Regions from separate parts of the Homo sapiens genome. Here regions 1, 2, 3, 4, 6 and 7 are each linked to region 5. Evidence: fine-mapped expression QTL. A gene starts in region 5. Each other region holds a variant in brackets. All regions are shown on one strand. Distances are between the middles of the regions. Region 1 overlaps GTF2IRD2B (GTF2I repeat domain containing 2B). Region 2 overlaps POM121C (POM121 transmembrane nucleoporin C). Region 3 overlaps GTF2IRD1 (GTF2I repeat domain containing 1). Region 4 has its middle 22 kb from the start of MIR10525. Region 5 holds the start of NCF1 (neutrophil cytosolic factor 1). Region 6 overlaps GTF2I (general transcription factor IIi). Region 7 overlaps RCC1L (RCC1 like).

Region 1 (4,065 bases), 350 kb after region 5:
GCAGTGAATTTCAGTGGCACCATACCCACAGGCAGTTTCCTAGGGAGTTCCACCAGTTCCCCAGAGCATGGCTTCCCAGCAAATTCTCTTGGCATCACCCTCCAGGTAGCTTCCAGAGAGTTCCACTAGCACACTAGAGGCCATCTTCCTTATAACGCCCAGAAAGTGTTGCAGGCACCCACAGGGTAACTGTCTAGTGATTTCCACCAGCACCCCCAGAAAGCAGGCCCCTGCTTGCCAGCCACCACATGGACAACCCCACAGGCTTCCCCACTATCCAGTGGGCCGTGACCAAATCCTGTTTAATGAGGTCTGGATCTCGGCCCTGGGGAGCCACCCCATTCCTGGATTTGCTCCCTCCTGGGTCCCCTGCCTTAGCCCAGCAGTTACAGATGCTCTTGCAATTTGCTGCTTATGTTCTCTTTAGAGTCCTCAGTCCCTCTAGCAGCTAATCCCATGTTACCAGTTGACGACTCTTCTAGGAAACTTCACCTGTTGGTGTAAATTAGTACAAGCTCTATGGAAAACAGTATGGAGATTTCTCAAAGAACTAAACATAAACCCCCATTCAATCCAGCAAGCCCACTACTTGGCATCTACCCAAAGGAAAATAAATCATTCTATCAAAAAGACACCTGCCTTGAACGTTTATCACAGCACTATTCACAATAGCAAAGATGTGCAAATCAAGCTAAGCATCCATCACCAGATGATGGGACAAAGAAAATGTGGTACGTACACTATGGGATACTATTCAGCCATAAAAAAGAATGAAATGGCCGGGCATGGTAGTGCATGCCTATAATCCAAGCACTTTGGGAGGCTGAGGCGATGGATCACTTGAGATCAGTAGTTCTAGACCAGCCTGGCCAACATGACGAAACCTCGTCTCTACTAAAATTATAAAAGTTAGCCGGGGGCGGTGGTGCATGCCTGTAATCCCAGCTACTCAGGTGGCTGAGGCACAAGAATTGCTTGAACCCGGGAGGCAGAGGTTGCAGTGAGCCGAGATCATGCCATTGCACTCCAGCTTAGGCGACAGAGTAAGACTCTCTCAAAAAAAAAAAAAAAAAAAAAAAAAAAAAAAAAAAAAAAAGAATGAAATGATGTCTTTTGCAGCAACATGGATGGGATTGGGGGCTATTGTCTTTATCATTTGACGTAAAAAGGCAAATGCGGCATGTCCTAACTTACAAGAGGGGCTAAATAATAGGTACACATGGACATAGAATGTGAGGCTAGGTGCAGTGGCTCACTCCTATAATCCCAGCACTTTGGAAGGCCGAGGTGGGCAGATCACTTGAGGCCAGGAGTTCGAGACCAGCCTGGCCAACATGGTGAAACCCTGTCTCTACTAAAAATACAAAAATGAGCCTGGTGTAGTGGCGGGTGCCTGTAATCCCAGTTACTAGGGAGGCTGAGGCACGAAAATCTCCTGAACCCAGGAGGCAGAGATTACTGTGAGCTGAGATTGCGCCACTGCACTCCAGCCTAGGTGACAGAGTGAGACTCTGTCTCAAAACAAACAAACAAAAACATGGTCATAGAGTGTGAAATAACAGACACTGGAGACTCAGGGGTGGGAGGCAGGAGGTGGGTAAGGGATGATAAATTACTTCATGGGTACAATGTACATTATTTGGGTGATGAGTACACTAAAACCCCAGACTTCACCAACAACACCGTATATCCATGCAAGAAAACTATACTTGGCGGGGTGTGGTGGCTCAGGCCTGTAATCCCAGCACTTTGGGAGGCCGAGGC[A/C]GGCGGATCACGAGGTCAGGAGATCGAGACCATTCTGGCTAACGTGGTGAAACCCCATCTCTACTAAAAAATACAAAAACTTAGCCGGGCGTGGTGGCAGGCACCTGTAGTCCCAGCTACTCAGGAGGCTGAGGCAGGAGAATGGCGTGAACCCGGGAGGCAGAACTTGCAGTGAGTGGAGAACATGCCACTGCACTCCAGCCTGGGTGTCACAGCGAGACTCTGTCTCAAAAAAAAAAAAGAAGAAAGAAAGAAAACTATACTTGTGCCCCTTACATTGATACAAAAAAAAAAAACAAAAACCTTTCTGTGTTCAAATTACTATGTGGTTTCTCTCTTCTGACTAGACTGATGAAAACAATCAGTTTTAAAACTTTTGGAGGAGCAATTGATTCTGGGGCTGGTCTTGAATGGGTTCAGGGGTATAGTCTTCCTATACAATTATTGCCACGTTTCAACTGTATAGCAAATCAAATTTCTGTTATAAAGATAATTTCTGGATGGGTGCAGTGCCTCACACCTGTAATCCCAACACTTTGGGAGGCTAAGATGGGAGGATCACTTGAGGCCAGGAGTTAGAGGCCAGCCTGGGCAACATAGTGAGATCCCATCTCTAAAAAAAATTTAAAAGTTAGCCAGGTGTGATGGGGCACTCCTGGAGGCTGAGGTGGGAGGACCGCTTAAGCCCAGAAATTTGAGGCTGCCGGGAACTTCGATCATCCCACTGCACTCCAGCCTGGGCAGCAGAGTGAAACCCTGTCTCTAAAAATAATAATTTCCTTAAACTACTACTATTTCTTTATATGTTGATTTTTTTATAGTTCATTAACCTGTTTATCATAAATACAATTTTTTCTTGTTTTTCTTTAAAAGATCTTGTTTTATATTTATTCACTTTTTTCCCTTTTTTCTTTCAATACCAGAAACAAAGTACGGAAGTGTACAGCACAAATGCTTAGAAACTGACCTAATGCCAATCATCCATTTGCAGGCGTTGCAGAGGGACTGTGTGAGGTGAAACCTCCCTGCCCTGTGAACGGGATGCAGGTCCACTCGGGCGAAACGGAAATACTCAGGAAGGCAGTGGAGGACTATTTCTGCTTTTGTTATGGTAACGTTCACTTTAAGCATTAATTCTATTTTTTTTTTTTTTTTGAGATGGAGTCTTGCTCTGCCACCCAGGCTAGAGTGCAGTGGTGCGATCTCGGCTCACTGCAACCTCCGCCTCCTGGGTTCAAGCAATTCTCCTGCCTTAGCCTCCCAAGTAGCTGGGATTACAGGCGCCCACCACCACACCCAGCTAATTTTTGTATTTTTAGTAGAGATGGGGTTTCACCATGTTGGCCAGGCTGGTCTCAAACTCCTCACCTTGTGATCCGCCTGCCTTGGCCTCCCAAAATGCTGGGATTATAGGCGTGAACCACCGCGCCCAGCCAAGCATGAATTCTCTAAGTGGTTCACCCAGGAGTAGGACAGTGTCACAGACAGTCTTATTGCCATGACTACTTAGAATGTTTGAACATTTCAAAACCCATATGCTTATCAAGCGAGGAGCTAGTTCTTTTTTTTTTTTTTTCTGAGAGGAGTCTTGCTCTGACACCCAGGCTGAAGTGCATTGGCACAATCTCAGCTCACTGTAAACTCTGCCTCCTGGGTTCAAGCGATTCTCCCACCCCAGCCTCCTAAGTAGCTGGGATTACAGGTGCCCACCACCTTGCCCAGCTAATTTTTGTATGTTTAGTAGAGATGGGGTTTTGCCATGTTGGCCAGGTTGGTCTCGAACTCCTGACCTCAGGTGATCCTCCTGCCTTGGCCTCCCAAAATGCTGAGATTACAGGTGTGAGCCGCCGTGCCTGGCCACCAGTTCTTTTTTTTTTTTGAGGCAGAGTCTCGCTCTGTTGCCCGGGCTGGAGTGCAGTGGCTCAATCTCGGCTCACTGCAAGCTCCGCCTCTCGGGTTCCTGCCATTTTCCTGCCTCAGTCTCCTGAGTAGCTGGGACTACAGGCACCCGCCACCGTGCCCGGCTAACTTTTTTTGTATTTTTTGGTAGAGACGGGGTTTCATTGTGTTAGCCAGAATGGTCTCGATCTCCTGACCTCGTGATCCGCCCACCTTGGCCTCCCAAAGTGCTGGGATTACAGGCGTGAGCCACCGCGCCCGGCCCACCAGTTCTTAATTACCAGATTAAGTGTTCTTATAGAAGATGATGTGGATCTTGGATCTTCTGCTCTGTGGAAACTTCTGTATTGATCACTCTTTCTTCCTTGATCCCATTTTAGAGAGCCCCGCATCAAGGCCAGT
Region 2 (4,065 bases), 650 kb after region 5:
GGGTGCCCAAATCTCTGGAAGGCCAGGCCAGTAATAAAACACAGGGTGCCTCAATAGGGCTTTCCCCGCTGCGTCAGAAACACTGTACGGGAGGAGCCTCCTGAAATGCAAACTCCCAGAGTCTCAGAGCGAGGCCCACGAATCCATTTTTACCTGGCTTCCCATGGGAGGCAAACTTCCACCCCGGACAGCTCCTCTCTGATCTCTGCCATCCAACTCCCATCCCTGGGCTGTGCTGTACTCCTAACCCGAAATGTCTTTCCTGTGCTGAACCTGATCTTCACGGGGCCTCAGAGGGCCAGGAGCCTGCCACCCCACCCAACCTCTCCTCAGACAGACGAGCAGGGCCACAGGGTGGCTTGCTGCTTACCGAACGGTCCAACACCAACAAAGCCTTGGGCGGGTGCTGAAGATGCCCCAAAGGAGAGGCTGCTGCCCGATGTGCCCACTCCAGGCGCAGGGGTGTTCTGACCAAAGGTGGGGGTGGCGGTGCCTGGAATGAAGAGAACAGAGAGCTAGCCAGTGAGCAGAGGGCGGAGGCAGGCGAGGAGCCGGGCAGGAGCCTGTGCTCTGCAGGGCACTTCCCACGGGACCCTCAGCCCCACTTCTGCTTCTGGGGCACTCCTCCATCAGCAGCTGAGCCAGACAACCGAGTCTTCATGCCTGGTGCCCCAGCTCAGCCTGCTTCTCCCACCCGCTAATGGCCACGCCAGGGCAGAGAAAAAGCCCCCCTGCCCCGCAGCCACCTCGTGGGCCTCCTGACCATCGCTGCAGAGGGGAGTACTCTGGGGCCCCCGCCTCCTAGCGTACCTGGGTTGGCTACCTCCTCTGTTCAGGCCTTTTCCCCCTAGCCACCGTCCCCTCCCCTCTGAAGCCTGGTTTGTCCGTCCTGTGTCTTTTGTGATGCCCCGTGGTCCCCTCCCTTCCCCGGCCTTGCCCTGACTGGCTCTGGCTGCCTGCCCGATGCCCTCTCTGGCAGCCCCTCTGCAGGGATGGCTGCTCTCAGGGCTTGGCCTCCGGCCCGGACAAGGGGAAGCTCCCTGTGCTCCCACGCTGCTTCCACACAGTTTCTCTTCCTTCCCTAAATACCGTAACTCAGGTTCAAATCACTTTAATCTGCCATGTCCTCATGTCACCTGTCAACTGCCAGGTCACTCCCTGATTCACAGAGGACCCTTGGCTCACTGGCTTCCTCCCCATCACCACTCACGGTGACTTCGCCCTGTGGGGCTGACTGATGGTCCTCTCAGCCCCTCGGCCCTGCCACCCCCATGACCTCCTCTCCCCGACCCCTGCCACCACTCCTGCAGCCACACTGTCACCACAACTGCTCCGGCTCCCGAATCTCCTGCAGGCACCACCCCTCCTGCAGCTGACTTCACCCGCTCTCCACTCCTGCACCCCCTGAGCTGCATCGGGGCACTGACCCGCTGCCCCTCCTGCTGTGCTTGCTGGGGTCTCCACAGCCGGGTGGCACCAGCTGTCCGCTGACCTTAGATCTATACCCAGTGTCGCTGGGAAACACACGCCATGCTAACTGGCCTCACTTTAACTTCACAATCACAATTTTCCAGCCCACAAACTGCCTGGAAACTGATCACACTTTTTAATATGATGTTCCTTTCCCCCACTGTCCAAAATGACTATTTCAAAAGACCCCTTTTTTATACACTTTATCCCGACCTTCCCTCTCCCAGATTTTCTCTCCTACTTCACGAAGCAAACAGAAGCCATGGGATCTACATTCATCTTCCACA[C/T]GGGAGGAACCATCACTGCATCCTTCTGCCTGATTCTGCAATGGTTTTCCTGAACACTTAAGACCCAAACACCCAACCCTGGCCACAAACAATCCTCGCCTCTTGGCCTCCTTCCACACCACTGCTTTAGCTCCTGCCCTCCTGCCATGCTTGTCTTTGTTCTGCTCTTCAACATACCAAACATGTTTCTGCCTCTGGGCCTTTGCATGCGCCATCCTGGGCCTGAAAGGCATGTCCACTTGTGCTGTGCCCACCCCCACCCCACCCCCATATTCAGCTTACGCTTGAGACAGTCTTGCTCTGTCACCTAGGCCAGAGTACAGTGTGGCATGATCTTCGCTCACTGCCACCTCCACCTCCTGGGTTGAAACATTCTTCTGCCTCAGCCTCCCGAGCAGCTGGGATTACAGGTGGGTACCACCATGCCCGGCTAATTTTTTGGTATTTTTAGTAGAGACAGGGTTTCGCCAAGTTGCCCAGGCTGGTCTTGAACTCCTGTCCTCAAGTGATCCACCCTCCTTGGCCTCCCAAAATATTGGGATTACAAGCATGAGCCACTGCGCCCAACCTTCAGCTTACAATTGTTAAGTACTCAGAAGGCCTTTGACCAGTTAAATCCACAATGGCTCCTCCAGTCATTACTACGTTAGCAAAACATGTATCATGCCCTGGCATCTCACTGAGTTCTATATTCAGTGCCTGTCTCTTCACTGCCACAGCATAAGCTCCCCGAGACCACAGGCTTCACAGGCACAGCTTTTCAGTGTCCGGCCCGGTAGCCCAAGTCCACGCCCCTCCTTACCTCCAAACACAGGTTTGCTCTCAGTTGTGCTGCCCACGTTGAAGGCAAACGGTGTGCTCTGGCCGGTGGTGCCCAGGGCGTTCTGACCTAAGCCCCCTGTGAAGGGGGTGGAGGTGGCTGTGCTCCCACTCTGTCCTGCTCCAAAGCTGAAAGCTCCGGTGGTGGCGCTGGAGCCTGGGGTGGCCACGTTGATCCCAAAGCTCCCACTGCCAGCGGGGGCTGCCGAACCCCCAAACGTGAAGGGTGATGGTGTTGTGCTGCCAAACACCGAGCTGCTGCTCCCGCTGCTGGCGGTCTGGGTGGTGGCTCCAAAGCCGGAGCTGGTGGCTGCACCGAAGGAGAAGACAGCAGTGGAGCCGCCAAAGGCGGGCTGTGAGCTGGCGGGAGCGCCGAAGGCGGAAGCCGTGGCTTTCAATCCAAACGCCGAGTGCGTGGCACCGCCAAAGGTAGGCTGGATGGGCGTAGGCACGTGCGCAGGCACGATCTTGATCGTGGACGCAGGTGCAGGTGTGGGTGCAGTAGCCGGGGCCGGGGCTGCAGAGTTTCCAAAAGTGAAAGAGCTGCCAAAGCTGGGGGTAAGGGCTGGCTTGGCGGCCCCCGGTGGCTGCCCCTCAGCGGCCCCAAATGCGGGCTGGGGGTTGGCTCCCGGATATGATGGGAGCGGGGACTTGGCGCTTGAGCCAAAGGGAATGTTGAACGTGGGGGTGCTCGTGTTACTGAACGTCAGAGTGGGCTGGCTGCTGGTGGCCGGGGCGGAGGTGGCGAGGGTGCTGCCAAAACCACTAAAGTCGGCAGCGCTGCTGCTGGTGGCCGTTGGCACGGCAGTGGGCAGGGACTGGCTGAAGGTGGTGACTGTGGTGGTTGTGGGCAAGGCAGGAGGTTTGCCAAACTGGAATATGGAGCCCATGGCCGGGGTGAAGCTGGCAGCAGAGGCCTGGGGCGCCCCGAAGAGGAAAGGCTGTGAGGCGGCAGTGGCGGTGCTGGTCGTGGTACTCACACTGCTGCTGCTCACACTGTTTATGCCAAAGCCAAACGCAGGCTTCGAAGCAGAGTCTGTGGATGGACTGGCAGAGGTGATGGGAGCCACAGCAGAGGTGGCGCTGGCCAGGCCAGTGAAGAGCGGGGCAGTTGTGGTGGGAGCAGTGGCGGGAGTAGTTGTCTGCTTGAAGAAGGGAGCAGGCAAGGGCACAGATGCAGGTGGCCCCATGCTGCTAAAGACAGGCTGGAAGGTCGGGGCTGTGGTGCTGGTGGTCGTGGGGAGGGAGGAGCTGGAGGGCGCTGTGGCTGAGACTGAAGGGCCAGGCGGTGTGAGGCCTTCCTTCTCACTCTTGGGTGGAGCCGTGAAAATGGGCTTGAACATGGGAGATGCTGAAGATGCAGCAGGGGCGGCAGGGCTGGAAGGTGAGGTGTTCTGTGTTCCAAACAGGAAGCTTTGCTTGGGGGCGGGGGACGGGGCAGATGTGGCTTGGGGTTTGGTAGCCGTCTCTGCCTGAAGGGTTGGAGGTG
Region 3 (4,065 bases), 170 kb before region 5:
GATTGCATCACTGCACTCCAGCCTGGGCAGAAGAGTGAAACTCCATCTCAAAAAAATAAAAAATATAAATAAATAGCCTCTGAGAAAGCTCTTCCAAAAGCAGAACTAAGCATTTTGGGTTTGTTCCGCATCACCTGGAGTCCTAATCCAGTCCCTTTGTCCCTCTCTCTAGCAATGGCCAATGTACATGGTGGACTATGCCGGCCTGAACGTGCAGCTCCCGGGACCTCTTAATTACTAGACCTCAGTACTGAATCAGGACCTCACTCAGAAAGACTAAAGGAAATGTAATTTATGTACAAAATGTATATTCGGATATGTATCGATGCCTTTTAGTTTTTCCAATGATTTTTACACTATATTCCTGCCACCAAGGCCTTTTTAAATAAGTAAAAAAAGAAAAAAAAAAAAAAGAGTGTTGCCTTTACTTTTACGGTCACTGTTTCATGTTCTCTTTTGGATCGTGGCCGCAGCTGTCACTGGGGACAGGGTCAGGAAACGCAGCTCAGGTGGCCTGCCAAGGCCCTCCTTCTTCATCACAGCAGAGGTAGTGTCCAGGAAGACCCCAGAGCTCTCTGTGCTCCTGGGAGCACGTGACCTCAAGAAGAAAAGCCACGGAAGGAAAATGTGCCACGGGGCCGGGCGTGGTGGCTCATGCCTGGAATCCCAGCACTTTGGGATGTCGAGGTGGGTGGATTGCTTGAGGTCAGGAGTTCGACCTCATTGGCCTGTAATACCGATGCTTTGGGAGGCCAAGGTGGGAGGATTGCTTGAGACCAGGAGTTTGAGATGAGCCTAGGCAACATAGTAGAACCCTTTCTCTAGAAAATGTTAAATGTGGCTTACACCTGTAATCCCAGCACTCTGGGAGGCTGAGGCGGGTGAATCACCTGAGGTCAGGAGTTTGAGACTAGCCTGGGCAACATAAGGAGACCCCGTCTGTACGAAAATGCAAAAATGAGGCCGGGCATGATGGCTCATGCCTGTAATCCCAGCACTTTGGGAGGCCGAGGCGGGTGGATCACCTGAGGTCAGGAGTTCGAGACCAGCCTGGCCAACATGGTGAAACCCCATCTCTACTAAAAATGCAAAAATTAGCCAGGTGTGGTGGCGGGAACCTGTAATCCCAGCTACTCAGGAGGCTGAGGTAGGAGAATCACTTGAACCTGGGAGGCAGAGGTTGCAGTGAGCTGAGACCACGCCATTGCACTGCAGCTGGGGCAAGAAGAACAAAAGTCCGTCTCAAAAAAACAAAACAAAAGCACAAAAATTAGCCAGGCGTGGTGGTGCACACACCTGGAGTCCAGCTACTCAGGAGGCTGAGGCAGGAGGAGGATTGCTTGAGTAAAGATGGTTGAGGCTGTAGTGAGTCATGATTACACCACTGCACTCCAGCCTGGGCGACAAAGCAAGACCCTGTCTCAAAAAAAAAAAAAAGTGTTAAATATGGTAAATGTCAGAGAGGGAGGGGCCCATCCCAGTGAAGCACTGTGGCTGGATGGGAGGCTTCTTCAAAAAGGGGTTTGGAGACCAGGTGCGGTGGCTCACGCCTGTAATCCCAGCACATTGAGAGGCCAAGGTGTGCAGATCGCCTGAAGTCAGGAGTTCGAGACCAGCCCAGCCAACATGATGAAACCCTATCTCTACTAAAAATACAAAAAAATTAGCCAGGTGTGGTGGCGCGCAACTGTAATTCCAGCTACTTGGAAGGCAGAGGCAGGAGAATTGCTTGGACCCAGGAGGCAGAGGTTGCAGTGAGCCGAGACTGTACCATTGCACTCCAGCCTGGGCAACAAGAATGAAACTCCATCTCAAAAAAAAAGGGGGGTGGGGTGGGGGCAGGACAAGTTTTCTTTTTTCAGAGGCAAGTTCTTTCTGTGTCCCCAGGCTGGAATGCAGTGGCACGATCATATCTTCCTGCAGCCTCAAACTCCTGGGCTCAAGTAATCCTCCTGCCTCAGCCTCCAGAGTAGCTGGGACTACAGGTGTGAGCCACCACACCCAGCTAATTTTTTGATTTTTTTGTAGAGATGGGGTCTTGGGTTATGTTGCCCAGGCTGGCTGCAAATTCCTGGGCTCAAGCCATCCTCCTGCCCCAGCCTCCCAGAGTGCTGGGATTAGAGGCGTGAGCCACCATGCCCAGCCTGGGATGATTTTGGATAGAGCTCTGGATACCTGACAAGCAGAGTGATGGGGTCCCAGCTGTGTCTCAGAAAGACCACTTTAGGGGCAGGTGGGAAGTTGAAGGAAGGGACAAGACTGAAGGCAGAAAGACAAGTCACAAGAGCGTGGCAGGCGTCCAAGGCCTGGCACCCAGTCCCTGCTTATTGGGTGACACATATTTACTGAGCCCTGCCCTTCTGGCTGGGGAGGCCAAGCAGCTGAGTGTCCTAATTGGGGAGGCAGCTGCCAGGGAGTACAAAACAGAGTA[G/A]GGCTGGTGCGGTGGCTCAGGCCTGTAATCCCAGTGCTTTGGGAGGCCAAGGTGGGAGGATCGCTTGAGGCCAGGAGTTCAAGACCAGCCTAGACAACATAGTGGAACCCTTTCTCTAAAAAATGTTAATTAGCTGGGTATGGTGGTGTGTGCGTGGTCCCAGCTACTCTGGAGGCTGAGGCAGGAGGATTGTTTGAGACCAAGAGTTTGACACTGCAGTGAGCCGTGATTGCACCACTGCTCTTGAGCATGGGCAACAGAGCAAGACCCTGCCTCTGAAAAAACAAAGCGGGGGGGCCTCACCTAGTGCAGAAAGTAGGAAGAGTCCTTGAAGCTGAGGCTTGAAGAGCAAGTGAGGCTTTGGGGGGACAAAGAGAGGAGGGCTGAGGTAGGTGGGTGTTTAAGACGAGAGCGATGTGGGCAAAAACGGAGCTGGACAGGGACTGGGTACGTTCCAGGAATAAGAAGGTGTCACCAGAGCAGACACAGGGTGGCTGGAGGTGACATGTCAGGGCAGGTGTGGACTTAGTCAGGGTTCCCGAGGACGCTAAGCAGGTGTCTCCTACACATGGTGCCGGGCTGAAGTGGTGGGCAGAGGCAGACATCCAGCCTGGGTTACACCTGCCCAGCCATGCACTCTGGGACAGAGCTGCGTACTTTTTCTCACCGACCCACGTGGAAGGCCTCATAAGCCGGGCCAAGGCAATTTCCAGAAGGCAAATGAGACCCACAGCAGGAAGTACCTGGGGGAGAGCCAGGCCTAGGTCTGCATTTTGGAAGGGTGCCCCTGCCCGCTGAGAGATGTCGGAGAAGGAAGGGAGGAATACATCAGAAGACCACCTGGGAGGCTCCAACAGAAGATAGCAGTAGAGGCCAGGCGTAGTGGCTCATGCCTGTAATCCCAGCACTTTGGGAGGCTGAGGTGGGTGGATCACCTGAGGCCAGGAGTTCGAGACCAGCCTGGCCAACATGGTGAAACCCTGTCTCTACTAAAAATACAAAAATTAGCTGGGCATGGTGGTGGACACCTGTAATCCCAACTACTCTGGAGGCTGAGGCAGAAGAATCTCTTGAACCCAAGAGGCAGAGATTGGCAGTGAGCTGAGATCGCACCACTGCACTCCAGCCTGGGCAACAGAGCGAGACTCCGTCTCAAAAAAAGAGAGAGAGAGAGAGATGGCAGTGGTTTGGGCCAGGTGGAGAAAATAACTAGAGGGTCAGCCAGTCGGGTGGACGAGGGGTTCTGGAGAGTCAGGGGTCAGGGTGGTCCCAGGATCTGGCTCTAACCGTCCACCCAGGGCCCAGAATGAGGCCTGTGGCTTGGAGGGACTGAGTTCTGAATCAGCTGAGGAAATGGTCAAAACTTTAGTCCAGGGCTTCTGCCAGTCCTCAGGGTCAGTCCCATCCATGCCCAGAGCTGGGAGGAAGGCCCCATCCCAGCCTTCCAGACCACACTTCCTCCTGGAAAGACGCTAGAAACCACGTGCCTGGCACAGCCACCCCCTCTCCGCTGGTGCAAACCCCCCACCCAGTCAGCTGCCAGCCTCACCTTCCTCCCTCCCACCTCCTAGTGGCTCCCAGTGCCACCAGGCGCCTCCACTCCACCCTCAGCCCCTGCCCTGGGCCGGGCCCAC
Region 4 (4,065 bases), 160 kb before region 5:
AGCCACCATGCCTGGCCAACTGTTGTTTTCCCATAGCACATATTGTGCTTTGAATCAGAGTTGGCTGATACATGTCTCTTTCCCTTTGTCTTCTCTCGCCCCGACCGTGCACTCAGCGCCTAGAAGGCAGAAGCCATCTATGACCGTGGGGACCAAAGTGACACTCTGGAAATAGGGCGCATAAGGAGAGAGAGTGTGTGTTTCAGCAGCTGCTGCAGACTGCACCATCTAACCCTGAGCTGCTGTCACCCAAGAAAAGTGAAACTCATTTCTTATTTAAGCCACGGTTTGCAGGAGCTGAATGCAATCCTGACTGATCACCATATGCTCCATTTTCATTAAGCTAGAAAATTAGCCAGCCATGGTGGTGCATGCCTGTGGTCCCAGCTACTCCGGAGGCTGAGGCTGGAGGATCACTTGAGCACAGCAGGTAGAGGGTGCTGTGAGCTATGATCGTGCCACTGTACTCCAGCCTGAACCACAGAGCAAGACTCTGTTTCATAAAAATAAAGAGAAAAGGTAGAAAAATTACGTGTGTATGTGTGATCACTTACATGAGCATAAAGATGCTGAAGGATACATATCTTGCCATTAACATTGATAGTCAATATCAAGGGATAAGATTAGAGACAATGGAGAGATTATGAGGTTTCTATTTTTTAATTAATTAATTAATTATTTATTTTGAGGTAGAATCTCGCTCTGTCACCCGGGCTGGAGTGCAGTGGTGTGATCTCCGCTCACTGCAACCTTTGCCTCCCAAGTTCAAGCGATTCTCCTGCCTGAGCCTCCCAACGGCGAAACTCAGTCTCTACTAAAAATACAAAATTAGCCGGGCGTGGTGGCAGAGTGTGGTAGGTGCAGGCCTAGGGAGACTGAGGACATGGAAGGTTCGGTGGAGTTTTCCAGTTTGAGCCCAGGCCACCAGATTCAGAGTTGCTCCAAATTCCTTGGTGCAAAGGGTCAGGCTCCAGTTCCATTAGCCTAATGCAGCAGGCATCCAGGAGACCGGCAGGGCCCTGCCTGGGGACATGAGACCCAGAGGGGCAAGTGCAGCCTGGCAGAGGAGCAGAGTGACAGCTGTGGCATGTGGCGCTGGCCCCAGGCTCCCCAGAGGTGTGCCCTGGCTCTCATGAGCAGACCCAGTTACCTGCCCTGCTCTGGGGCTCTGAGATGGTGGCTGGATCCCATCTTACATGCAGCTGAGCTGGGCTGGGGCACACAGGAGCCAGGCGTGTGCCCAGTAACAAACAAAACCATGTGGCCATGCTTGCACATGATCCATGTCTTCTTGGTCAGCAGCTCTTTGCTGCTCAGAGCCTTCATGGCGCCTGCCCTGTGAAGCCACGTGGTGGGGACGGGGGTGGGGATCACAGTGCTGCTGGCCCAAACCCCCTCCCACACCCCTGCCTCCCTGCTCCTATTTCCTCTCTCGAGGCAGCCAAGGGTTTCCTGTCTTTCTGGCTGTCTGAGCGGCTTCCTCATTTATCTCTCAACATCTTGCAGCAGGTGCCATCGTTCCTTCTGTTCTTGGAAACTCAGACAGGCTGGGACCAAGCAGAGATCCGTGGGGATTGTTCAAAGGAGAGATGGCAGAGGGAAATGGCAGTGGGGTTAGTTTTGCAGGACCCAGCTAGGTTCTGGGGGAGCCAGCAGAGAGAAGGGTTTCTTTCTTTTCTCTCTCTGCTTTTTTTTTTTTTTTTTTTTCTGTTTTTAGAGACAGGGCCTTGCTCTAACACCCAGGTGGAGGCGCAGTGGCGTAATCACAGCTCACTGCAGCCTCGACCTCCCAGGTTCAAGTGATCCATGATTCTCCTGCCTCAGCCTCCTGAGTAGCTGGGACCACAGGCACACGCTACCATGCCCGGCTAATTTTTATTTTTGTAGAAATGGGGTCTCACTATGCTTCCCAGGCTGGTTTCAAACTCCTGTCCTCAAGAGGTTCTCCTGCCTTTTGGGGCCAAATTCCTGAAACCTGGACTGACTCCTGTGCCCCCTCCTCCTTTCTGACCCAGTAAAAGTCTTCTCTTTGCAGCTTCTGCACAGGGACCAAGTGAAATTGCTAACACGGGTCGGGCGCAGTGGCTCACACCTGTAATCCCAGCACTTTGGGAGGTTAAGG[T/C]GGGTGGCAGATCATTTGAGGTCAGGAGTTTGAGACCAGCCTGTCCAACATGGTAAAATCGCGCTGGGTGCGGTGGCTCACGCCTGTAATCCCGGCACTTTGGGAGGCCGAGACGGGCAGATCACGAGGTCAGGAGTTCTAGACCAGCCTGACCAACATGGTGAAACCTTGTCTCTACTAAAAATACAAAAATTAGCTGGGCCTGGTGGTGGGTGCCTGCAATCCCAGCTACTCGGGAGGCTGAGGCAGGAGAATCGCTTGAACCCAGGAGGCAGAGGTTGCAGTGAGCCGAGATCATGCCATTGCACTCCAGCCTGGGCAACAGGGCAAGACTCCATCTCATAAAAAAAAAAAAAAAAAAAAAAAAAAAGAATTGATTAAATGCCAACATGGTGAAATTTCATCTCAAAATACAAAAATTAGCTGGGCATGGTGGCACACACCTGTGGTCCCAACTACTTGGGAGGCTGAGGCGGGAGAATAACTTGAACCTGGGAGGCGGAGGTAGCAGTGAGCCAAGATCATGCCACTGCACTCCAGCCTGGGAGACAGAGTGAGACTCCAGCTCTGAAAAAAAAAAAAAAAAAGCAATTGTTAACAGAATCGTGGCTCCGAAAGTAGGGTTGCCAAATAAAATACAAGAAGCCTAGTCAAATGTGAATTTCAGATGAACAACAAATAATTGTTTTAGTGTAAGTTATGTCCATATATTGCAAGGAACATGATTGCACTCAAGAATTATTTGTTGTTTATCTGAAATTCAAATTCAACACAGCATCCCCTATTTTTATTTGCTAAATGTGGCAACCTGATCCTAAAACGGCTCAGCTTTCAAAGTTCTAATCAGATTTCTCAGAAAGGAAAGAGAGGGAGAAGGAGAGGGAACAAAAGAACAAATTGCCCCCTAAAGAAAGAAATCACTCCGTGTGCCTGAGCAATTGAGGGGCTTCCTCCTGCAGGCCCAGACACAGATGCCCCAGGAGAGAGGGCCAGGCTGTGTGAGACACTTAGGTGCTAATACTGGTTCAGCCACCAACTTCCCACCTCCCTGTAGGTCATCCCCGGGCAGTGGTTGGGATTCCCTGAGCTCCAGGGCACCTCCTCGCTGAAGATTCACAGGCCCCGGTGTCCTGGGTGCTGTCATTCATCGCACTAGTTCCCAGCACCCCCTCTGTCTGCAAAGGTCAGGCCCTGGGAGAGGAGTGAGACTCCTGGGCCCCCGAGCAGCTGGCTAGCAGGCAGATACAGACCCATAAACAGATCTCCAAGATCCAAGGGGGCAGAATTTCTGCCTTCTCCTTTAGACAGAGAGTTAGTCCCTGCTGAGCCCCGCACCTGTTCTCTCCCCTGTGCCAGCAGCCACTCAGGGATCTGCAGGGGCTGCCTACAGGTGATACTGGCTGCAGTGGCCCTAACATCGTCGACAAAAAAAAGCTCTCCATGGAGGCTGGGCGCGGTGGCTTACGACTATAATCCCAGCACTTTGGGTCGTTGAGGCGGATGGATCACCTGAGGTCAGGAGTTTGAGACCAGCCTGGCCAACATGGGCAAACCCCGTCTCTACTAAAAATATAAAAATTAGCCAGGCAGCTGGGCGAGGTGGGTCATGCATGTAATCCAGCACTTTGGGAGGCCGAGGTGGGTAGATCACCTGAAGTCAGGAGTTTGAGACCAGCCTGGTCGACGTGGTAAAACCTCGTCTCTACTGAAAAAAAAAAAAAAAAAAAAAATTGGCCAGGCGTGATGGTGGGCGCCTATAATCCCAGCTACTTGGAAGGCTGAGGCTGGAGAGTCGCTTGAACCCGGGAGCCAGAGGTTGTAGTGAGCCGAGATCGCGCCATTGCACTCCAGCCTGGGCGATAAGAGAGAAACTCCATCCCCCCAAAAAAATTAGCCAGGCATGGGCCGGGCGCAGTGGCTCATGCCTGTAATCCCAGCACTTT
Region 5 (4,055 bases):
GATAATAAAAGCAGGAACAGGCCAGGTGCGGTGGCATGTGCCTGTAGTCCCAACCTACTGGGGAGGCCAAGGCAGGAGGACTGCTTGAGCCCAGGAGTTGGAGGCTGCAGTGAGTTATGACCAGGCAACTGCACTCCAGCCTGGGTGACAGATAGAGACCCTGTCTTTAAAAAAAAAAAAAAAAAAAAAAGGGCCAAGCACAGTGGCTCATGCCTGTAATCCCAACACTTTGGGAGGCTGAGGTGGGTGGATCTCCTGAGCTCAGGAGTTCAAGACCAGCCTGGCCAACAGGGTGATACCCCTTCTCTACTAAAAATACAAAATTAGCCAGGCGTGGTGGCGCACACCTGTAATCCCAGCTACTTGGGAAGCTGAGGCAGGAGAATCGCTTGAACCTGGAAGGCAGAGGTTGCAGTGAGCCGAGATTGTGCCACTGCACTCCAGCTTGGGCAACAAGAGCGAAACTTCGCTTCAAACAAATAAATTAACGCCCAGCATGTCTTGGCTTTCATCTGCCAGACCTCAACCCTCACCCCCAGGAGATCAGGTCCGGACCATGAGCTGACCCTGGACTCAGGCAAGGGTGAGTTGGTGCAGCCCTGGCCTGCTGGGAGGCACAGGCTGCAGCAGGCTGCCTGGGGCTGAGGCCCGCCACTCATGAACTCATGACCTTGAATGAGCTCCAAAAGCTCTGGGCCTCCCAGGCTCTAGGGGGAGTGGGAGAGAGAGGCCTCAGCCTGTCCCTGGGCATGCTGCCCCCTCCTCACCTCTTTGTCCCAAATCCCCTTCCTGGCAAAGCTGACAGTCTTAATATCACTCTGGAGAAAACTGAGTCAGCCCTAAGGAACAATTCAATGAACCATTTGCTTACTTGAGGATTGGAACTCAAGTCTCACTCAAAGTCTGTGCCATTTTCGTCCCAGCTGTCACTGGCCCTCATCCACACACACCCAAGGATGAGCATCTAACGCTTGCATGCACACTCCCATGCCCGCGTTCATTCACTCATTCATTCATTCATTCACTCATTCATTGACTCATTCATTCATTCACTCACTCATTCATTCACTCAGTGAATGTTGCAGTCACGATCCAAATATTTATGGCCTCTGTGTGCCAGGCACTAGATGGAGGGGCTGGGGCTAGAGCCCCTGATAACCCGGTCATGCCCTAGCTTTCCTGGGACACACATTGTGGTAAGGGGAGACTAAAAAAATTAAGTCAGGCCAGGCACGGTGGCTCATGCCTGAATCCCAGCACTTTGGGAGGCCGAGGCGAGTGAATTACCTGAGGTCAGGAGTTCAAGACCAGCCTGGCCAACATGGAGAAACCCAGTCTCTAATTAAAAAAAAAAAAAATTAACCAGGTGTGGTGGCACATGCCTGTAATCCCAGCTACTCAGGAGACTAACGCAAGAGAATTGCTTGAACCCAGGAGGCAGAGGTTGCGGTGAGCCGAGATCGCGCCATTGCACTCCAGCCTGGGAAACAAGAGCGAGACTCCATCTCAAAAAAAAAAAAGTGGGAGGCAGAGGCAGGAGGATCACTAGAGGCCAGTAGTTTGAGACCATCCTGGGCAACATAGCAGGACCCTGTCTGTACAAAAAAATTAAAAAAAATTTAACCGGGCATGGTGGCACACACCCGTAGTCCCAGCTACTCCAGAGGCTGAGGCAGGAGGATCGCTGGAGCCCAGGAGTTGGAGGCTGCAGTGAACTGTGATCCCACCACTGCACTTAAGCCTGGATAACAAAGCAAGACCCTGTCTCAAATAACAATAGCAATAATAATAAAGAAAAATTAAATGCAATTTGCGATGCATCAGTGATAAGTGCTCTGCAGAAAAAGGAGGCAGGAAGAGGCTGAGAAAGGTATGAGGTTTGCTATGCAATGTGAAGTTATCAAGGAAGGCTTCTCGGAAGAGGTGACATTTGAGCAGAGAAATGGAGGAGAGTTATGGAGGGAAGATGGTGAATGGGGGGAACATGGTCAAGACCAGGAATATGGTCAAGGGGGGAAAGATGGTCAAGGGGACGCAGCAAATGCAAAGGCCCTGAGGCAGGAGCAGCTTGATTCACCCCCAAAACCCGTGGGGCCCGTGCAGGCGACGGGAAGGACAAGTGTAAACCCTTTTCCTTGTCCCTGCAGGTGTGTGTGAACATGAGTCTGCCCATGTTTACACCCTGCAAGCCTGAAGAGTCCCCAGAAACTGAAAGAAGAAGCAAAGCCCTTTCTGTACCCTCCCTGCCCCCTGTCCCGACCGCGACAAAAGCGACTTCCTCTTTCCAGTGCATTTAAGGCGCAGCCTGGAAGTGCCAGGGAGCACTGGAGGCCACCCAGTCATGGGGGACACCTTCATCCGTCACATCGCCCTGCTGGGCTTTGAGAAGCGCTTCGTACCCAGCCAGCACTATGTGAGTAGCTGGTGGAGGGCATCCCGTGGGGGGAATACGGGAGGGACAGCACGGCCACCCTTGCAGTCCCAGGGCCAACCAGCTCCAGTGAGGACTAACGGGGCAGGGTCTTGGGCACCTGGTCCCTGGTCTTTGAGCCTGGATCTACCCCTCTGATCCCTGGGAAGACAGTTCCCTTGGACCCGCCCTGGGCCCCAGCCCTTTACTGTCCCCGCCTGTGTCCCCAGCCAGGCCCTCAGCCTTAGCCAGGAGTCCTCTTTCTGCTCCCCTGCCATGGCCAGGCAGCCCAGCGCTCTCTCAGGTCCGAGGCCCACTCCTCCAGGAAGCCTTCCCTGACTAGCCCAGCTATCAGAGAGTGGCCCTCCCAAGAGGGAGGCCTGGAAACTAAAGCTCTCTCTCTCCCCAGCTGCCTGTAGTGTCAGTTAGAGTCTTATCCTCTCCAGTAGGGTGACACCATGACAGGGGCCAATAGAGTCCTCCCATCTGTCCCCAAGGAGGCTGGACAAATGCCTGCTCAGACACACAAGTCCACTGGGTCCCCTAATCCCATAGGAAGGCCAGGGAGGAACTACATTTAGGAAATTGAAGCTTGTATGGAACATTTAGTCCTATGTGCCAAGACCTTTCTCTTTTTTGTTATTTTTTTGTTTTTTGAGACAGAGTCTTGATCTGTTGCCCAGGCCAGAGTGCAGTGGCACGATCTCAGCTCACTGCAACCTCCGCCTTCCAGGTTCAACTGGTTCTCCTGCCTCAGCCTCCAGAGTAGTTGGGATTACAGGTGCCCACCACCACGCCTGGCTAATTTTTGTATTTTTAGTAGAGACAGGGTTTCACCATGTTGGCCAGACTGGTCTCAAACTCCTGACCTCAAGTGATCCACCCACCTGGGCCTCCCAAAGTGCTGGGATTACAGGCATGAGCCACCGTGCCTGGCCTGTTTTTTTGAAATGAGGTCTGGAGTGCAGTGGTGCGATCATAGTTCACTGCAGCCTCGACCTCCCAGGCCCAAGTGATCCTCCTGCCTCAGCCCCTTGAGTAGCTGGGGCTACAGGCGCACACCACCATGCCTGGCTAGTTTTTAAAATTTTTGTGGAGATGAGGTTTCACTATGTTGTCCAGGCTAATCTTGAACTCCTCGGCTTAAGCAACCCTCTGGTCTCAGCCTCCCACAGTGCTAGGATTACAAGCGTGAGCTACCGTGCCTAGTCACTTTTCTCCTTTTCTTTGTAACTTTCAGTTTTGAAATTTCAAATTTACAGAAAGGCTACTGGGTGTCAAAACGGTACCAGTCACTCCAATAGTCTTTCACTCACCTTCATCCACACCTCTCTTTCTGGGGATATTTTCTGAATTATTTGAGAGTGAGTTGAAGACGTGTTTCTTTACCTCTAAATACTAGTTGTTGGGCATTTCTTAAAATCAAGGCATTCTCTTACATAATCACAACACACGTGTCAAAATCAGGAAATTAACATGGACAAAACACCATTATCCACCCACAGACTTTACTGAGGTTTCCCCGATTATCCTGCTTGTCCTCTGCAGTGAAAACTTTTTTCAGGTCTAGGATCCAGTCAAGGATCAATGTCATAGCCTTTAACCTTCTTTAATCTGGATCAGTCTTTTTTCTTTTTCTTTTTCT
Region 6 (4,065 bases), 48 kb before region 5:
TTTTTTTTTAAGACGGAGTCTTGCTCTGTTGCCCAGGCTGGAGTACAGTGACCTGATCTCGGTTCTCCGCAGCCTCCGCCTCCTGGGTTCAAGTGATTCTCCTGCCTCAGCCTCTGGAGTAGCTGGAACTACAGGCACACGCCACCATGTCCAGCCAATATTTTACTTTTAGTACAGACAGGGGTTTCACCATGTTGGCCAGGCTGGTCTTGAACTCCTTACCTCAGGTGATCCACCCGCCTCGGCCTCCCAAAGTGCTAGGATTACAGGCATGAACCACCGCGCCTGGCCACGGTGCTAAGAATTTAGTAGTGAATAATTCAGTGGCAAATCCTCGGGAGTGTTTTGCAAATAAGAGTGACACTTTTTGTCCTTCACTTCTAGGAAACGTGGTGACTATGTTGAGAAAAGGGGGAAAAAAAAAAAAAGAGAAGACCTAGAGCAGTCAATAGTTTTTTGACAGAAAACTAGCTTGGGAGCCTCTTGGAACTACCTAGGGCACAGAGAAGAGTGCTTTAGAGCAGGTTGGTGGCAGGGGAGATAAGAAGTTGTTGATTCTGGGGAGATTTTGAAGACAAAGCCACCAGGCTTTGCTGTTTATTGTTTAATTCTTGTATTTTCTTAAATGTCTCTGCAGCACTTTTAAAATGGACATAATTGCTTAGGTTAGCACTTGAACACTTTGTTTTAAATTTTTTTTATTGCTGCCAAATAGTCATTTAATAAATACCCAATTGTTTATGTAAAGAGTTTTAGAGGAGCTATAAGTGGTATCCATGGGTGAAAGAATGAATCCATTTATTTGAAATGTATAGGGTAATTAATGGCTCCAGTTTTGAAATAGATATATTACCTGGTGTTGATTGTTTTTTTAACTTTGAATAGATGTCAGATTGTATGATAACACATTCCCAGTCTGATTATGTTGAAGCTAAGAGTATCAGAACATATTGTAACATAGTCTATTTATTGATTCACCGGCCAGAATGCAGTGATAAACAGCTTTAGCTCTGAAGCCTGTATTATCTTTAGGTGTATTCGTTAATATGTTGCAAAAAGGAAGTTGGTGTTTTCTAAACACAAATTTTGAGTTAGGGACGGTGTTGCCAACTTGAAGGTATTGGCGGAGTGCTTTTGTTAGTGTGGGTAGCATAACTATTGTAAATTCATGAATAGCACCTTTTGCATATTAAAATATCTTAAAATGGGCCAGGTGTGGTGGTGTAATCCCAGCACTTTGGAAGACCGAGGTGGGTGGATCACCTGAGGTCAGGAGTTTGAGACCAGCCTGACCAACATGGTGAAATTCCATCTCTACTAAAAATATAAAAATTAGCTGGGCGTGGTGGTGGGCGCCTGTAATCCCAGCTACTCTGGAGGCTGAGGCAGGAGAATTGCTTGAACCCAGGAAGTGGAGATTGCAGTGAGCCAAGATCGTGCCACTGCCCACTGCACTCCCAGCCTGGGTGACAGAGCAAGACTCCATCTCAAAAAATAAAATAAAATATCTTAAAATGTATTTTAAAAGCTTTACATTTTGATTATGGAAACAGAGTTTGGGCTTGAATTTGAAGCATGCTGAAACGTGTGTCTTGTTAAACAAAAATGGTTGTTTATACTTTGGAAACGGCAGATAATTGGAAGAGCAATGCCCAGTATGTGAGGGCAGGCCCTAGAGCTTTAGTTGATGTTTTATGCTTCAGAGTAAAAAGTAATTTTGATCCTT[T/G]GTGGAAAGGATTTTAGGTCGAGAAACCCATTTTTTTTCTTACTTTCTCAAAACCAATTAATTGCAACAAAGAGTTAATTGCAGAAAAAATTGAGGATGTGGTGAAGTTTATAGCTGTTCTGATGCCTGAATGCCATGTTCCATATGACTTAAAACACCCAAAGATTAATTAATAAGTTTATGAAACAGGGTTTTTAAAATAGAATATATGGTGTGATATTTTATCAATAACTACATCCAGCTGGGTGCGGTGGCTCACACCTATAATCCCAGCACTTTAGGAGGCCAAGGCAGGAGGATCACTTGAGGCCAGGAGTTCAAGACCAACCTGGGCAACATAGGGGGACCCCTATCTCTACAAAAGTTAAAAAAAAAAAAATTAGCTGGGCGTGGTGGTGCAGGCCTGTAGTCCCAGCTATTTGGGAGGCTGAGGTGGGAGGATCACCTGAGCCTGGGAAGTCGAGGCTGCAGTGAGTGGTGCTCCAGCCTGGGTGAAGGAGGGAGACCCTGTCTTAAAAAATAAAGTAACTACATTCATCTCTATATATGTTCACATTTAACAGATTGAACTTTATTATTTGTCAGTGAAGAGGAAAATGTGATATCCCTGATATTTTCAATATTTTACAGTCTTTGTTGTATTAAAAAAGCACTCTAGTAGATTTGCCTTTTTCTCTTTCTTTTTTTTTTTTTGGTTTATGATCGATTGGGTTACCTTCATAAAATATATTTATGCTATTAAATCTATTGTGGTCTAAAATGTTTGTGTGACTGAAAAAGTGAAGTCTTTTCAGTAAGGAAAACCTGTCTTCCCTTCCCCTGGGCCTCAGCTGTGAAGTTTGGATTTGGACTGAGATCCATGGGATGGAGCTCCACAGGTGTCCCTTCCATTCCATCTACAGCTGTGTTTCCTTTCTCATGTCATTCTACTCTAGCAGCTTTCAGTTTATGTCACTCAATGAATAGTCAGCTTAAATGATGATCTATAAGGATACTTAGGAGACCTTAACCTATAGGGGAAATACTTTTATTTTAGAAGTTACTGCTTAATGTTTGTAAAAAAATATATAGTAATATTAAGCATTTATAATGCTTTGACAGTATTCATAGGTGAAATGAGTGTATTTTGTTTTAACCTTTGGAAGCCAGCATAAAAATACTCTTAAGGTTTCTAAAATCTGTTTGGGAGTTGGAAAATCGGGTTTTTTAAAAAGTATATTTTCAGAATTGAGGTCCAAACTTACACACTTCTGTTTTCCAGATTGTTTCTACTTAGGTTGGAACCTTAATCTATTTATAGGGTGTCTTGACCATTTTTAATCCTTACAGTCATACAAACCCAGGTGCCAGTCAAGTTTTATTTCACAGGGAGGTTGTCATTTTAAAATTGTTTTCTGTCCTGGTCCCGTGGCTCATGCCTATAATCTCCGCACTTTGGGAGGCTGAGGCAGAAGGATCACTTGAGGCCAGGAGTTTCAGACCAGCCTGGGCAACATAATGAGACCCTGTCCCTACAAAAAATTAAAAGAAAAATAGCCAGGTGTGTTGGTCCCAGCTATTTGGGAGGCTGAAGCAGGAGAATCATTTGAGGCCAGGAGCTCGAGGTTGCAGTGAGCTATAATCATGCCACTGCCCTCCAGCCTGGGCGATAGAATGAGACCCTCCCGACAGATAGATAGATAGATAGATAGATAGATAGATAGATAGATAGATAGATAGAATGAGACCCTGCCAATAGATAGATAGATAGATAGATAGATAGATAGATAGATAGATAGAAAGAATGAGACCCTGCCGATAGATAGATAGTTTTCTATCAAATTTTTTCCTAGATTTGAACATGTTTTTCTAAAGTAGCATTCAACACATCAGCATTTTATAGCGTCATTAGTTGTTACTATGATTATGTTTTTCTGAAATAGTATCCTTTACAAAAGCACTTCTGTCTTTCTAAGCACATACATAGGTCCTAAAATGAATTTGTCTGATGTTGGTGACCTCGGAACCATTTTCTCCAGTTGATTAGCACGGCCAGCCAGTCAATAATTTCAGGTCACTGTTGGCCTTAGAGGAAGAGCCCAAAGGCAGCAAGCAAGGGTGCTGGTGTCCAGTCGCCTTCTAGAAGCATTTTCACCTTCCCTTAAGATTTCCCTTGATTAACACAGAAGTGTCTATAGAAGTGACCCAGTGCTGCCCCGGGCAACATCGTATATTAGGCCAAATTTGCATTTCTTACCTTTATGAGAAGCACCCTCGTAGTCTAGTGGAGTTACACACACACAGTCTGATCTCAGCTGTGCTCTCCAGAGATACAACATAGTCCAATCAAATAACATCCT
Region 7 (4,065 bases), 280 kb after region 5:
CTACTCTTAGCATCCATTCTCAAGACCTCCCCGGCCAGCCTTACCCTCCATGGGAAATACTGGTCCTCCAGGCGACCGATTCCCAGGCACCCTCGGATGTTCTTGCCCCATACAAACAGCTCTCCTTTGTCTGCAAAGGGAGGAAAACAGGGGTTGGTTGGGACTGTGTGAAGAACAAGTCTCCAAGGAGAGGATGGGTCATGAGAACAGGCTTTCTAGAACCAGATACCTACAGAGCCCACTGTTCAGCTTTTACCAGGCGTTCATGCTTTCTTTGAAGGCAAAAGTAAGGGTCTGAGATGCTGTCCCCATATCGAAAACACATCCACGGCCAGGACTTCTGCTGCATCCACCCACGTGGGAGATGAGCACTCAAATGAAGATGGGGCAGGGGGCAGTGCACGGGGCTGGGGGTGATGCATGGAGCTGGGGTCTGGGGGTGGTGCACGGGGCTGGGGGTGGTGCATGGAGCTGGGGTCTGGGGGTGGTGGACAGGGCTGGGGGTGGTGCATGGAGCTGGGGTCTGGGGGTGGTGGACAGGGCTGGGGGTAGTGCATGGAGTTGGGGTCTGGGGGTGGTGGACAGGTCTGGGGGTGGTGCATGGAGCTGGGGTCTGGGGGTGGTGCACGGGGCTGGAGGTCACTGATGCACACGGCCCACTCTGCTCACCCCTTGTGCCCCGCCCACAATCGTGTGCCACCAAACTCTGCCTTCCACAAATCCTGGCGACACCCTGGGCTTCCTGATTTGACAGTGAAAAGTAAGACAATTTGTCATTCCTGGATTGATTGTCCATATCTTGGGAGCATTCAGCCACAGGGCATCTAATGACCAAGTGCCTGCTTGTGCTGGGTCTAGGTCTGTGTTCCAGGAGCTGGGGACTGGCCAGAGACGGAACAGACAGATGATTTTAATATATGTTTACAAACTGTAAAAACTGTCATGAAGAAAAAGTACAAGATGCTGTTTAAGAGGTCAACCCAGGAGATGGCCTCTCCTAGCCCGGCCTTCAGGTGGGACTCTGTCTGCACCAGCTGGGGCACTCCTGGGCCCATGTCACCATCAGCTGTTGGGCAAAAGGCTTGGGTCATGGGAGGCAGAGGAAGTGACATGGAAAAGCCAGGACTACAAGACCTGGGGCTGATGAAGTACGGAATAATTACAAGCTGTCTTAGGCCCCTGATCTAAGCATGCCCCTTGTTCTCCACACTCAGACCTTAGATAGTTTTTGTGTGTGTGTGTTTGTTTGCTTTTGAGACAGGGTCTCACTCTGCTGCCCAGGCTGCGACGCAGTGGCACAAACATAGCTCACTGCAGCCTTGAACTCTCAAACTCAAGCAGTCCTTCCACCTCAGCCTCCAGAGTAGCTGGGACTACAGGCGCACACCACCACACCCAGCTAATTTCTGTATTTTTTGTAGAAAAGGGATCTCACTATGTTGCCTAGGCTAGTCTCGAACTCCTGGGCTTTGAGGGATCCTCTCATCTTGGCCTCCCAAAGTGCTGGGATTACAAGCATGAGCCACTGCACCCAGCTAGCCCTTAGGTGTTTAATAGAACAATTCGGCCTGGCTCCCCAAAATGCTAGCAGACCACAGGATAAACCAACCAACTCTAATTCCCAGATGGCTATCTGCAAATGCCAGGCACACAGGCAGGAAGACAGCTAGGCTCTGTCTACCAACAGGCAGTAACTCACCCTTAGAAGGAGGCCTGTTAAGTCTCGGGGAGAAATCCAGAAAGGAATTTCATTTCGCTGTGACCTGAAATGGCTACATGGCATGAGGGCAAATAGAAAAGCCTCTGCTCTAGTCAAATGCTTCACACAGATTTCTAAACATGTGTCTCTGCCCATAGTTGAGGCCTTAAGAACTTTCTGGAAAGTAGATATTTGTTTCCCCCAAAATTAGTCCATACGACTCTTATTTATCAAATCAAAATAGCTTTAAGAATTCATGACACTGAATTAGCCGGGCGTGGTGGTGTGTGCCTGTAATCCCAGCTACTTGGGAGGCTGAGGCAGGAGAATCGTTTGAACTCGGGAGGCGGAGGTTGCAGTGAGCCAAGATCGCGCCATTGCACTCCAGCCTGGGCAACAAGAGTGAGACTCCAACTCAAAAAAAAAGAATTCATGAGACCTACACTCAGCTGCAAATGCAAGTGGCCACTCTGGCTGGGCAGTGGCCAGGAATTCTCTGGCTTAGTCATGACCACTGCCACTTCAGTGCTTCAGCCTAGAGCCAGATAAAACTCCAGCTGGCAGCCATAACAACCCAGGCCTGCCTGTTTGACGGCCTCTGGAGCCTGGAATTCAGACAATAAGTGAATAGCAGTTAGGACCCTGGTACAGAGGGTGAGCATCTGGGACAGGCCCCACGTGGGAATGAGGCCAGAGAACTCAACCAAAGATGACACCAACTGACTGTCCCGGCCTGGATGTTTAA[A/G]AAGAAAACAATTACTTGCCATGAGATGAAAAGATTCTTTTAATTGCAAGGAAATAACTAATTTACTTGAGAATCACAGAATGAAATTAATTCAGGACAGTTTTACTATTCGAGTCAACTAAAGAGCAGCAAATTGAACCCACGGTAACTGTGGTGGAGTAAGAGATGTAACCAAGAAAAGGACACATTCCTTACCCTTACCCTGCAGGGTAAGCGGATATTCTGTGGCTTTGTAATCTGGCAGGCCTTTGGGAAAAACCTCCATTTTGCTCTCCCCTTTCATCATTCTCTACCCCGGCACTTTGGAGAAATCGGTAGATTTACCTCCGTGAAACCACGGGACAGTCTGACAAATCGGCCTTTTGCCATCCCATATCCTGGGTCAGATCAGGGTCTGGGCTCGGCCAGGGAATGGGATTAAGCCCCACACATTCACTTCCTAATCACCCACCCATGGATCCGCCAAGCCTCTGCTGGTTTCCTCCAGCACCCGACGTACTAGCAATGCCCCTTCCTACCACCGACGGGTGCTCTCTTGAGAAAATGCACGTTCACGTTAGCCTACCCACAAACCAAACGAACCAAAATTAAAACTCCAGGGGGGGAAAACAAGACATTATACAACCTCGAGGCAAACAACTTCTGGCTTAGCCCTTGCTTGAGTTATCAGTACAAAGGCGCCGTTCTGTTGGATGGGTGGAACCTGAGAGCTGCCCGCAGTTTGGGGTTGAACTGGAGACAGAGAACCTCTGCTGGGCTCACACCAGGGCCACCGGGCTTGGTAACTTACTGGTCAGTGCAGCAAAGTGGCTGAGTCCACATCGGATGCGGGAAACCTGGATTTCTGGGTTGAACTCCGTCAAGCCAAAGAGAGTGGGTGGAATCATTTCAGGGACGGCACTTTCCACTAGGTTTGGACCTTTCCCAAGAATTCCATAGCCCCAGACAAAAACATGTCCTTCTCCTACATTACAGTAAAAACAAGGGTCAGTAAGTCCATCCAAGTAAGAACCTCCCTCACCAGAAACTCAAACTACACCACCAAGGTTTATGACATCCACACGGTTTTTTTTTGTTTTTTTTTTGTTTTGTTTTTTTCCTCCTTGCTTGGCAAGAACATGCAGACAGAGATTTAGAATAATAATTCTCTCTCCCCTGCTTAAATTCTTGCTGGGGGAGTCTGTCTCGCCAGCTCTCCTGGCTCAGAACACAAACTTCCCACATCTTGAGGGTTAGTAACCTGGAAGGGACGAGCGTATAAATCATCCAGAAAACCCATACGAATACCAGAGAATTGGAGGATGTTTTCTCCCCCTAATGACAGCTCTGTGTTTCACACTGATCAGAAGGCCAAACACATCAACAATGTCTGGCCAGATTCTTAAAACTCTTAGAAATGATGTTTTGGTTATAGAAAGTTTAATATTCATCAGTGGTGCCAGATATTTCATCGTTATCCAAAGCTGAAGGCTGTTCTCCCATCTGCCTTTGATTTTTTGGCTGGAGAAGGCAGAGCTGGAGTCTCTCTGGCCCAGGCTAAGGGAGGGGAATGAAGTAGTTCGCTCTCCACTCCAGAGGTTTGCTCTAGGATGACTCAGCTCTGTGGCCATGTATCTACAGA

The links.
Region 1: its variant is fine-mapped to the expression of NCF1 in whole blood (Lepik 2017, PIP 0.92).
Region 2: its variant is fine-mapped to the expression of NCF1 in whole blood (Lepik 2017, PIP 0.95).
Region 3: its variant is fine-mapped to the expression of NCF1 in whole blood (TOPMed, PIP above 0.99).
Region 4: its variant is fine-mapped to the expression of NCF1 in whole blood (TOPMed, PIP above 0.99).
Region 6: its variant is fine-mapped to the expression of NCF1 in whole blood (TOPMed, PIP 0.98).
Region 7: its variant is fine-mapped to the expression of NCF1 in whole blood (INTERVAL, PIP 0.95).

The regions. Positions count from the first base shown.
Region 1 is chr7:75,118,136-75,122,200 of GRCh38, forward strand. GTF2IRD2B (GTF2I repeat domain containing 2B) reads left to right here. Exons shown (of 16, transcript NM_001003795.3): 4 at 2,756-2,875. Among named protein-coding and RNA genes, the nearest start is that of GTF2IRD2B, 28 kb to the left of the region's middle. The variant A/C (reference allele first, on the strand shown) is at 1,765.
Region 2 is chr7:75,418,950-75,423,014 of GRCh38, forward strand. It overlaps POM121C (POM121 transmembrane nucleoporin C), which reads right to left. Exons shown (of 15, transcript NM_001099415.3): 13 at 2,560-4,065; 14 at 371-493. Among named protein-coding and RNA genes, the nearest start is that of TRIM73, 25 kb to the left of the region's middle. The variant C/T (reference allele first, on the strand shown) is at 1,758.
Region 3 is chr7:74,602,193-74,606,257 of GRCh38, forward strand. GTF2IRD1 (GTF2I repeat domain containing 1) reads left to right here. Exons shown (of 27, transcript NM_005685.4): 27 at 173-413. The coding sequence ends at 241. Among named protein-coding and RNA genes, the nearest start is that of MIR10525, 8.3 kb to the left of the region's middle. The variant G/A (reference allele first, on the strand shown) is at 2,432.
Region 4 is chr7:74,616,210-74,620,274 of GRCh38, forward strand. No RefSeq gene overlaps it. Among named protein-coding and RNA genes, the nearest start is that of MIR10525, 22 kb to the left of the region's middle. RefSeq lists enhancers at 634-1,199, 1,200-1,764. The variant T/C (reference allele first, on the strand shown) is at 2,123.
Region 5 is chr7:74,771,691-74,775,745 of GRCh38, forward strand. NCF1 (neutrophil cytosolic factor 1) reads left to right here and starts at 2,321. Exons shown (of 11, transcript NM_000265.7): 1 at 2,321-2,413. The coding sequence starts at 2,342. RefSeq lists an enhancer at 602-1,147.
Region 6 is chr7:74,723,440-74,727,504 of GRCh38, forward strand. All of the region lies in intron 12 of GTF2I (general transcription factor IIi), which reads left to right. GTF2I-AS1 (GTF2I antisense RNA 1) reads right to left here. Exons shown (of 4, transcript NR_110044.1): 2 at 3,963-4,065. Among named protein-coding and RNA genes, the nearest start is that of GTF2I-AS1, 3.4 kb to the right of the region's middle. The variant T/G (reference allele first, on the strand shown) is at 1,727.
Region 7 is chr7:75,052,667-75,056,731 of GRCh38, forward strand. RCC1L (RCC1 like) reads right to left here. Exons shown (of 11, transcript NM_030798.5): 9 at 3,235-3,408; 10 at 45-130. Among named protein-coding and RNA genes, the nearest start is that of RCC1L, 19 kb to the right of the region's middle. The variant A/G (reference allele first, on the strand shown) is at 2,445.